2 linked regions of the Homo sapiens genome follow. The protein of the gene in region 1 purifies or fractionates together with the protein of each later gene. This does not show direct contact. Each region holds a gene or a part of one and is shown on either strand. Other genes may lie near its edges.

Evidence for each region. Proteins that work in one complex are often made in the same cells at the same time.
Region 2: the proteins of CCDC92 (region 1) and SERPINB4 purify together in Homo sapiens (affinity purification with mass spectrometry; 3 studies listed by BioGRID and IntAct, with this or other methods). This does not show direct contact.

Annotation. Positions count from the first base shown.
Region 1 is NC_000012.12:123,940,785-123,946,128, reverse strand, and holds part of CCDC92 (coiled-coil domain-containing protein 92), read left to right. Parts: exon of another isoform or gene 1-425; intron 426-1,388; exon of another isoform or gene 1,389-1,460; intron 1,461-1,764; 5' UTR 1,765-1,823; coding exon 1,824-1,857; intron 1,858-2,635; coding exon 2,636-2,782; intron 2,783-3,343; coding exon 3,344-3,385; intron 3,386-5,344.
Region 2 is NC_000018.10:63,639,008-63,642,178, forward strand, and holds part of SERPINB4 (serpin B4), read right to left. Parts: intron 2,882-3,171; coding exon 2,753-2,881; intron 1,985-2,752; coding exon 1,867-1,984; intron 770-1,866; coding exon 627-769; intron 334-626; coding exon 178-333; intron 1-177. UniProt on the Homo sapiens protein: May act as a protease inhibitor to modulate the host immune response against tumor cells.

The DNA of each region.
Region 1 (5,344 bases):
GGACAGAGGGAGGCTTTCTGGCAGGGATTTGGGTGAGGGTGAGGACGGCCTCAGCAGCGGAGACGGGGAGAGTTGAACGGATCTGAGAGCTGCTTTCAAAGCAGGATGCCAGCAAGATCATCATGGACTGGAAATGGATGGCGGGGGATGCCAGCGTCAAGGCCACCCCCAGGTTGTGCAGCTGGGGACAGTGCTTGTGAGGGGTAGGACACTAGGCCTAGGGCAGCTCTCCTGTCATCCAAGACCCACTAAATTCTGGATCACATTTAAATGGTTCTTTCTCTTTGACAGCAAGCCACTAACATATGGGCTCTGCTTCTTCCATCAGCCAACAGAATCCTGGATTTGAGTCTGTCCTTTGAAAGCATCTCTGCTAGAGTTCCCACTTCCAAACCCCTTTCAGCTCTTCGGGATTCAGCCTCCAGGTGAGGTGCTGGAATTGATGCCAGAGTGAACGACTCCGGATTGCTGAGTGGAAGGAAAACGTAGGCACCGCTACTGACAGCTCTCAGGCGCTCCTGGGATTTTCCTTCCTTTGACGCTGAGGCTGTTCCGCTTTCAAGCGTTCTGCTTTGTGAGGGAAGGGCAAGGTCAGAAGGTGCTCACCCTTTCCACAGCAAGCACGCGGCACACGTGTGCCACACGCTGAACCTGCCTTGGTTGTAGCTGGCTCCTTTGTTAAGGTCAGCGCCCCCCAAGACCACGTGCTGTGCAGACAGTGTTGGGATCTCGGGAACTGTGGGGTTCCACTTAGAAACTAGTGTCTGGCCCAGCAGCCTACACAGGAGAGTTTGCGGTTACAGCACAGAGACGGTTTCGGGGACAGAAACATCCTTTCTCACTCCTGCCGGAATGCTGCTCACGGCTCCACTGAGGAAAGCCCTGCTTGATGGAAACTCAACTCTGCCATCATCTGCAGCCCAGTGCGACGGCAGTCAAAGGCCAGGGAGAGCTATGCTTTGTTTTATAGAAACATGCCTAGAAATGGTCGCCTTAAGTTATTTAACCCACTCCCTATTGTCGGGTTTTGAGTTTGTTTCTAGTCTTTTCCAACTGCAAACTGCACTGTAGTGACCATTCTCACAGCTACCTCTTTTCACACAAAAGTAATAATTTCCCTTTGGTAGATTTCTAAAAATAAATTGCTAGTTCAGAGAGATGACCAATTCCAAGGCTTCTGATCAGCTCTGCCCAATCACTGCCCGTGGTGAGGTGCCCCCCGAGACTGTACTTGCCGTGTCCTGGGGCCACTGCCCTCTCCTGCCAGTTTTTGTCCCCAACTGAAAGGGCCTCTTGTTTCTCTTTTTCTTGGTCCTTTTTAGGATGTATCATTGTTCATTCCCCTTCGTGAGCTCCGTCGTGTTTTATTTCCTTCTCTGCGTTCTCAGGTTGCCCTCGGAGTGGAGTCTGTGGCTTTCCACCGGAGCAGCGCCCAGGAAGTGTTTTCGTGTGATGAAAGTGTATGTCTGAAGTTCGTTATGAACTCGTCCTAGCTCCAGAGCTAGTGTGCATGCATGTCACTGGTCGTACAGATAATTGATGAGCAATTGGTGTCGTCTGAAGCAGTGACAGCCTGGGTGTGTCAGTGTCTCCAAAACGGTTCCACTGTGGCATCCTACAAATGGGCTGCGTCCTGGGAGCCATTGAGAAGTTGTACCTCCTTTACGGAGGGTTCTCTGGAATAGCAAATTAGGGAAAATGCATTCTGAGGTTCTGTATTTACAATAATAATTTATAAGCAAATAACTCACATTTCATCCTCAGTATTTTTCAGTGCTGTACAAGCGTCTTGAATTACTCTGGTAGCTTTTCCAGAAAGACCCATGACTTCACCACATTTCTCGAGTTACGATGAAGGTAGAGTCTGGGGCCCTGAGTGAGCATCAGATGCTGGAAGCTGGGGCTGGGAGGGGCCAAGCATTGGGGACAGACTCCAGACACCTGCACCACCCCCTGGCCCCATGAGATACGTTCTCAGACCTTCCCAAGAAGGATCTGTGGCTCCTCTCAGTGCTGTGAAGTGCAGGGGGCTTCCCTCTGGAATTCAGCCCATCTCTCCCTCCTACTTTGGCTGGCTCCAGATGCCATTTAGAGGAAATGTTTGGCCCATTTCCCAGGTGCCAGCTTTTCCCATGAGGAAGCTGTCAGTGCTTCCTGGTCAGGGAAATCTTTTGGGCGTGATTTGGTCAGTCACAGTCTGTTGGGGTGAGGTGGTGCGTGGAGAGGACAGGATTTGGAACCAAGGGTCCCTGGATTAGAATCCCTGCTCCATACCTCACTGGCTGTGTGACCCCAGGCTCGCGAATCTGCCTCTCTTGATCTGTTTCCTCATGAGTAAAGGGAAATGACTTTGTACTCTGGAGTGGGCCTCACTCATTCATGTGCCAGGCATCGTGCTAGGTGCTAGGGCACACCCCAAGGCGTTCGGGAAGCAGAGGCTGCCGTCCCTGGCCTGGGGCCTCCCTGCAGTGATGGGAATGTAGCCCTGGTGCCCCCACACCCTGCCCTTCAGGAGCCGTGGTTTCCTTCTGCTCTCTCCTGGGAGGCGCACACCCCTCTGCACCCAGAGCCAAGGAGGGCAGGCAGCCCTGGGACCCTCTTCAGGCACCGCAGCCAGGGTCTGTGTTACCCACAGGTCCTCTGGATGTCAGCATGGCAGCCACAAACCTGGAGAACCAGCTGCACAGCGCACAGAAGAACCTCCTGTTCCTTCAGCGGGAGCATGCCAGCACGCTCAAGGGGCTGCACTCCGAGATCAGGCGGCTGCAGCAGCACTGCACAGGTACATCGGGGAGCAGGCCCGGGCAGGCGGGGGGCGGCTATGGGGCACGGCAGAGCCCAGCGTCAGAATGTGCTAGGCCTGCCCTGCCCCCAGCTCCCATCATCGTTGCAGGAGTCCATCTGAATGCCTTATATCATCCTCATTGCATAATCAAGATGCACTAAGCATAAAGCTGCAAAGCCTTTTCTTGGCATACTGAGGACTTAAGAGATTAAAATACAATGGTTAGAATCTCCAATGTGTTTTGGAACTGATAACCAAGATATAGCCTGTGTGATACATAGAGCCAGCTGCTGGATTGTTTGGTTTGGATGGTTGGGATATGCTGTGGGGGAATGGGGAAGGGAGTTTGGGGGAACAGAGGGTGCCCTCTGACCCCAGGGAGCACAGTGGCCGCAGATGTTTTCTGCTGCTCTCATGCTCACCTCTCCTGCTGCCAAACCCTGCTCTGTCTGGGTAGGACTCGCTGGCTAATCGTGGGAATCGGTTTTGCATTTTCAAAGCTGATGAAGATTTTGAAATGTACAGTAAAAGAATTAATGTGTAACATTTCCCTTTTAGATTTAACATATGAGCTGACAGTCAAAAGTTCGGAACAGACAGGTAAGAACTCCTCCCCAGAAGTAAATGACAGTAGGTTTCCCTTTGTGGTACGTGTTGGTGCCGTTTTCACTAGTCACACACTTAGGAGAAAATGCTCTTGCTGGGAAGAGTTATGCGTGTGGCCTGAGCTCTCTAAGAGAAGATGAGAAGGATGTTTGGATCCCTCCGTGTTGCAAGTGGTTATTAGTGGGCAGGGGGATGAGTGATTTTGTTTTCTTTTGAATGACACATATATTTGGAATGCCTATTATATGTTTTTCTGATTTTCCTACAATGAACATGTGTTCCTTGTGTAATCAGGACATAAAAATAGACGTGAGTTAAACCCAAAAGGAGGAGTAACAGCAGCAGCAGCATTGGGCAGAACCGCCCCCGCTCCTCCGTGTCGCTGCCGCCTAGCATGGGCCTGGCACAGAGCAGCAGCTTGCTAAATGCTGGCGGGCGAGTGGTCACATTACTAGACAGCTCCCTGAGGATCTGGGGCTTTCTCTGGACTACAGCCCCAGAACCCTCCCCAAACCAGAATCCTCCAGGACCTCAGGAAACCCCAAAGGGCAGCTGCCTGCTGGCCGCCAGAGAAGAGACAGAAACCCAGGCCTTCCCAGGGCCCTCTGTGCCTGCTGCAAAGAGCCTGCTCCCTAAAACAGGGTGGGTGTTTGGAAAGTGCTGAATCCATGTTTGTGCAGAGACACCTGTTGGAAACGGGTTTATCACGTCGGGAAGGCAATGGATGGCTCAGCAAGGCTAGTTTACTTTCTGCAGAAAGGGTGCAACTCGCCAGCAGTCTTACCACGAGAGCACACTCAAACAAAGGAGACGAGGACATTTATAATCTTCATAACCTGATGCAATTGCCCTATGACTGTGTCCAGTTTCCATTGACTGGAATGGGACCTCACATTCTAAGCTTGACCCGATTGGCTAACAGCTTGAAACTTTCCTAAATAGGCAAAAGGGAAAGAGGACAAAGAAAAGAGGAAGCTAGTCATGAGAGGGTCAGGAGAGTTTCCAAATAAGGAAGAGCATGCACTATGGTCCAGGGCTCGCTCAGCCCTGCGCAGGCGTGCCGGGGCAAGGCGGAGCAGCTACACTGGAACATATATAGAGATATACATAGAGCAAGGAAATGACAAGCTCTTTATGGTTTCAAGAAACTTTGAAGAACTTCTCCATTCCCCACAATGCCTTTTTCTAAACAGGCCTCACAATGGCAGTTACTATTCATGAGAGTGTCCAGTTCCTTGTAAAAGACACAGACCATTTCCACCAAGCCTTAGTGGATTACCGAGCACTGATTTTTTTCCATTTGCATTGCTCATATTACAGCCTCCTGAGTGCGCCACCCAGGAGCCCAGACATCTTTTTGTCTGCGTGTGGTAGGGAAGGCGCCGTGGGCTTCTTGGGGTGGTGGAATGGGAGCCTGTCCTCAGAAGTCTCCCTGTGGAGGGATACCAGGGACCTCCCCCGAAGCCCTGGGACTGGGAGCTGGGCCTGTGGGAATGCAGAGGAACAGGATTTCAGCCTGACACTAGGGACCTCCAGCGTCCACACCTGCCAGCACTGAAGCCTTGGGAAAGGAGCTACCCGTGTCATGGAAGCCAGGGCGTCCTCGCTCCCTGTCCTCTCCTGGCCCAGGCTAATCTGAAGCAGCATAGTTTTGCCCTGTGGCCTCTCCAGTCACGGTTCTCAACCTGAGGTCCCAAGGCCACCTGCCCACCCACCCACCCACCTGATGTAGTACTCCCAGCAGCAGCAGGGTCTCACAGCAAGGGCTGTGTCTTAGGGGAGGCAGTTTCAAAAGCCTCTCAGGTGGTTCCAGTCGGGGCGTCTCCCCTCCCAGTGGTGAAAATCATTGTTTTACATTAGTGCACCCAAAACTGCCCAATTCCAAGCAGTTTCGGGACCCAGGGTACAGCATAGACTCTTGGCTTCCCTCCCCTGGGGGCTGTGACCCCAGAA
Region 2 (3,171 bases), on another chromosome or scaffold:
GTTTGTGTCAGGCCCTATGCTCAAATATTTGTAATATGAAGGTGAGTCATCATTCCTCATTTAGAATTTTTCATCATTTTGAGGCAACTCGGTCATAAGCTTTTACCTTGTTTAAACTTGGTATCTTTGGAAAAATGTCCGGCAGTAGAAGGAAGAGTTGTAGATGCAAGTTCTTACCTTCTGCAGACCATCGATTTCATTTGGCAGCAGCACAATCATGCTTAGATCTTTGCCTTTGTATGGTATTTCCAGGACCTTGGCCTGTACATCCTCCAGCAAGGCAAAATTAAAGGAATTGTATTGCCTCATCATCTGTACAGATTTGTATGTATTCTGCAATAAATCAATGTGTCCAACAAATAACACGTGAAACACAAGACAAAAAAGATAATATTATTGAGATAGCAACACATCCTTCTTCTTCTAAGAAATAACCCAGGAATTCCATGAGTTAGAAACAATAGTTTTTCAGGTATTCCTAACTAAATAAAGTTATAAGAGTAAAACAACAAAATAACAGACATGAACAATTTTTATTTTTTACTTATCATGTTACATTCCATCAGAAATGTTTAACATTCCATGTATTAACATATTACACTATATAAATAAAATATAGACAATACCTTGTTTGGCCAAAATTTTTCCTCTTTAGTGTTTTCTTTTTTAAATTTATTCTCCCACTGCCCTTTGAAATAGATTGCGTTCACAAGAACCAGTGTCGTATCATTGCCAATAGTCCCATCAGGAAATAGGTTTTTAATTTTTTCTGCAAGGGAAAGAATAAAAGAGTCTTTTACACAAGCTACAAATGGCTTGTCTGGAAGATGCTTTGCAAATGTTCGTGACTGATCGTTAATTATTGACCCAAATCCCTGCTTGAGACTCACTGACTTTGATCTTTGAATTGTTAGACTCACTGACCAGTGGTTCACCAGATGCAGCTTTCTTCAAGGCTCCAGTCGTATAAAGTTACCCTTGATGGAGACATCACTTCTTGTGATAGAGAAGGAGTTCACGTTCTCTGTGTATGAATGTCTCCAATCATCTGATTTGGAATACTGATAAACTGATTTTGTCTACTCTTCCAACATGTGTCTTTCCTTTCTCCCTCCCTCCTCTTCCTACTTTTATTTTTTTTTAACTACGGGGTCCCCATTCAGAGGAAGGAGGCCCTGATTGCATTTTAGGATGAGTGACTTGAGCTCTGTAATATGAAACGCATGTCCTGTGCTGTCAGACACTACTTCCGGGGGTATCTTCCTATTCACTCTCATGTTGAGTTGCTGTAAGTTTGGCCTGTAATGAGAGGTGGGAGGTAAGAAAGATGTCTGTAGAATGGAGACTTTGTCAAGCTCTTTGCCCTTGATGGGGAAGAGAGCTGTGATAATCCCTGCAGAACACATTGGCTACAGATGTGATCCAGGCAGCTCCAGCTCAGAGACAAAAGGGTGATTTACCAGAGAGCTGCTTGTTTCCCAATTAGTAAAGGAGACGAGAGACGCTTTCTAATGTTTTCTATTAAATATTCATCATAAAAATTTGAGTCTGATTTAAAGTAAAGGATATGATCTCAAAATAGGCCTGAGCGGAGACAGGGGATCCACAAAGCTATTGTCATGCAGGGCCATAAGCAAATAATTCTCCAGATGTGTTTCCATCTAATTGGCTTCCTGTGATTTCCTCCTTGGCTCCCCTAGGCTCTCTTCATATTCATTTGGACAAATCCTTCATCTGGAGTGCCCTCTTCAGCCCTCCCTGCAAACCCATCTCAATCCCCACACCTGTTCCCCCATGCAGTGTCAAGCACAAGGCTCACTGGCATAGGTTTCTCAAAGGTGTTTCTATAATGGGTGGCTCTCCTACCATTCGTTTGACTTTCCACCCAGGAGTTAATCTTCTTTCGACTTTCTTCTGGAGCATTTGCAAAATCAGTAGATTCCACACTGGTCTGGTAAAATTTCTTGATGGCATCTAAATATTCCTTTGAGATATGAAGGAAGAAGTAGGAATTAGGAGTAATTTATGTAACTATATATTACCAAACTTACTTATTTGTAACAACAGTAAGCTGAATCCAGACCCTGAATAGATGCAGTATCTCCTGTCCATGGATATTTTTATACAGGTGTCATGTAGGCAATGCAAAAGGGGAATGTGGGCTGGCACAAGAAAGAGGTCACTGAAGGTCAATATCATCTTGGCAAAAGGCAGAAGCAGAAGAGGCTGTGGTTTGCAAACTGCAGAGCAGGCTTCCCTGAAGGAGATTCATTGCTTCTCAGACTTCTCTCCAGTAATTTTAACCATGATGTTTCTGATCTTTGTTTTTGTCTTTCATCCTGTGCATTCAATATTTCCTGGTACTTCCTCAACTATTCTCAGGAACTCACCCAAGCCTGCCCATTCCAATAATATCCCATTAGTCATACATTTCCCACCAAGATGTATCGTATGTGACTGAGTCAGTGCCAGTTTATCGATGGTATCTTATTACTTATTACTCTTACTCACTCTATTACACAACCTCCTCTTTTATCACAAGATTATCCCTAAATCCACACTTCAGTGATGTATCGTTGGGGTCTGGGACACTCCAGTGGGGGAGAGTTGTGGAAATGGAGCTAATGCACTCTGAGTAAATGCTCTCCACCTGAGTCGGCCAGGCTCATCTGCCTTGCTTTCTTCCATTTGGCCACTCAGAGACACAGACATCAGGATGCAAATGAAATGTGGGTAGGCCAGGTGAAATTACCTGTAAAAATTGATACGTCTTTTCTCCGAAGAGCTTGTTGGCGATCTTCAGCTCATATGCATCAGTGGATTTGTTGAATTCAGTCAGAAGCTTTTGAAACTGGTGATGAACATTTCCTGACCTATCAACCTTCAAACATCAAAAAGGGAGATCATTCAATTGCTGTATCAATGTAAATACTAAACCCATGCTAAGTCTGTTAGATCAGTCCCTAAATGCTGGTAGTCTCATTGAGGACCTTTGATGTTATTCCCTGATAATTGGTGTATTTCACCTCAAATACCCTTCAAAATCCACCTTATATTTGACTTCTTCCAGAAAATTCTTCTTGCTCTAACGTACTGCAATCTTTTCTCTTCTGAACTAAAGATGCAGCGCTGTCTACCAGTAGATTTTCTCCTTGTTGGTTTAAAGGGTTA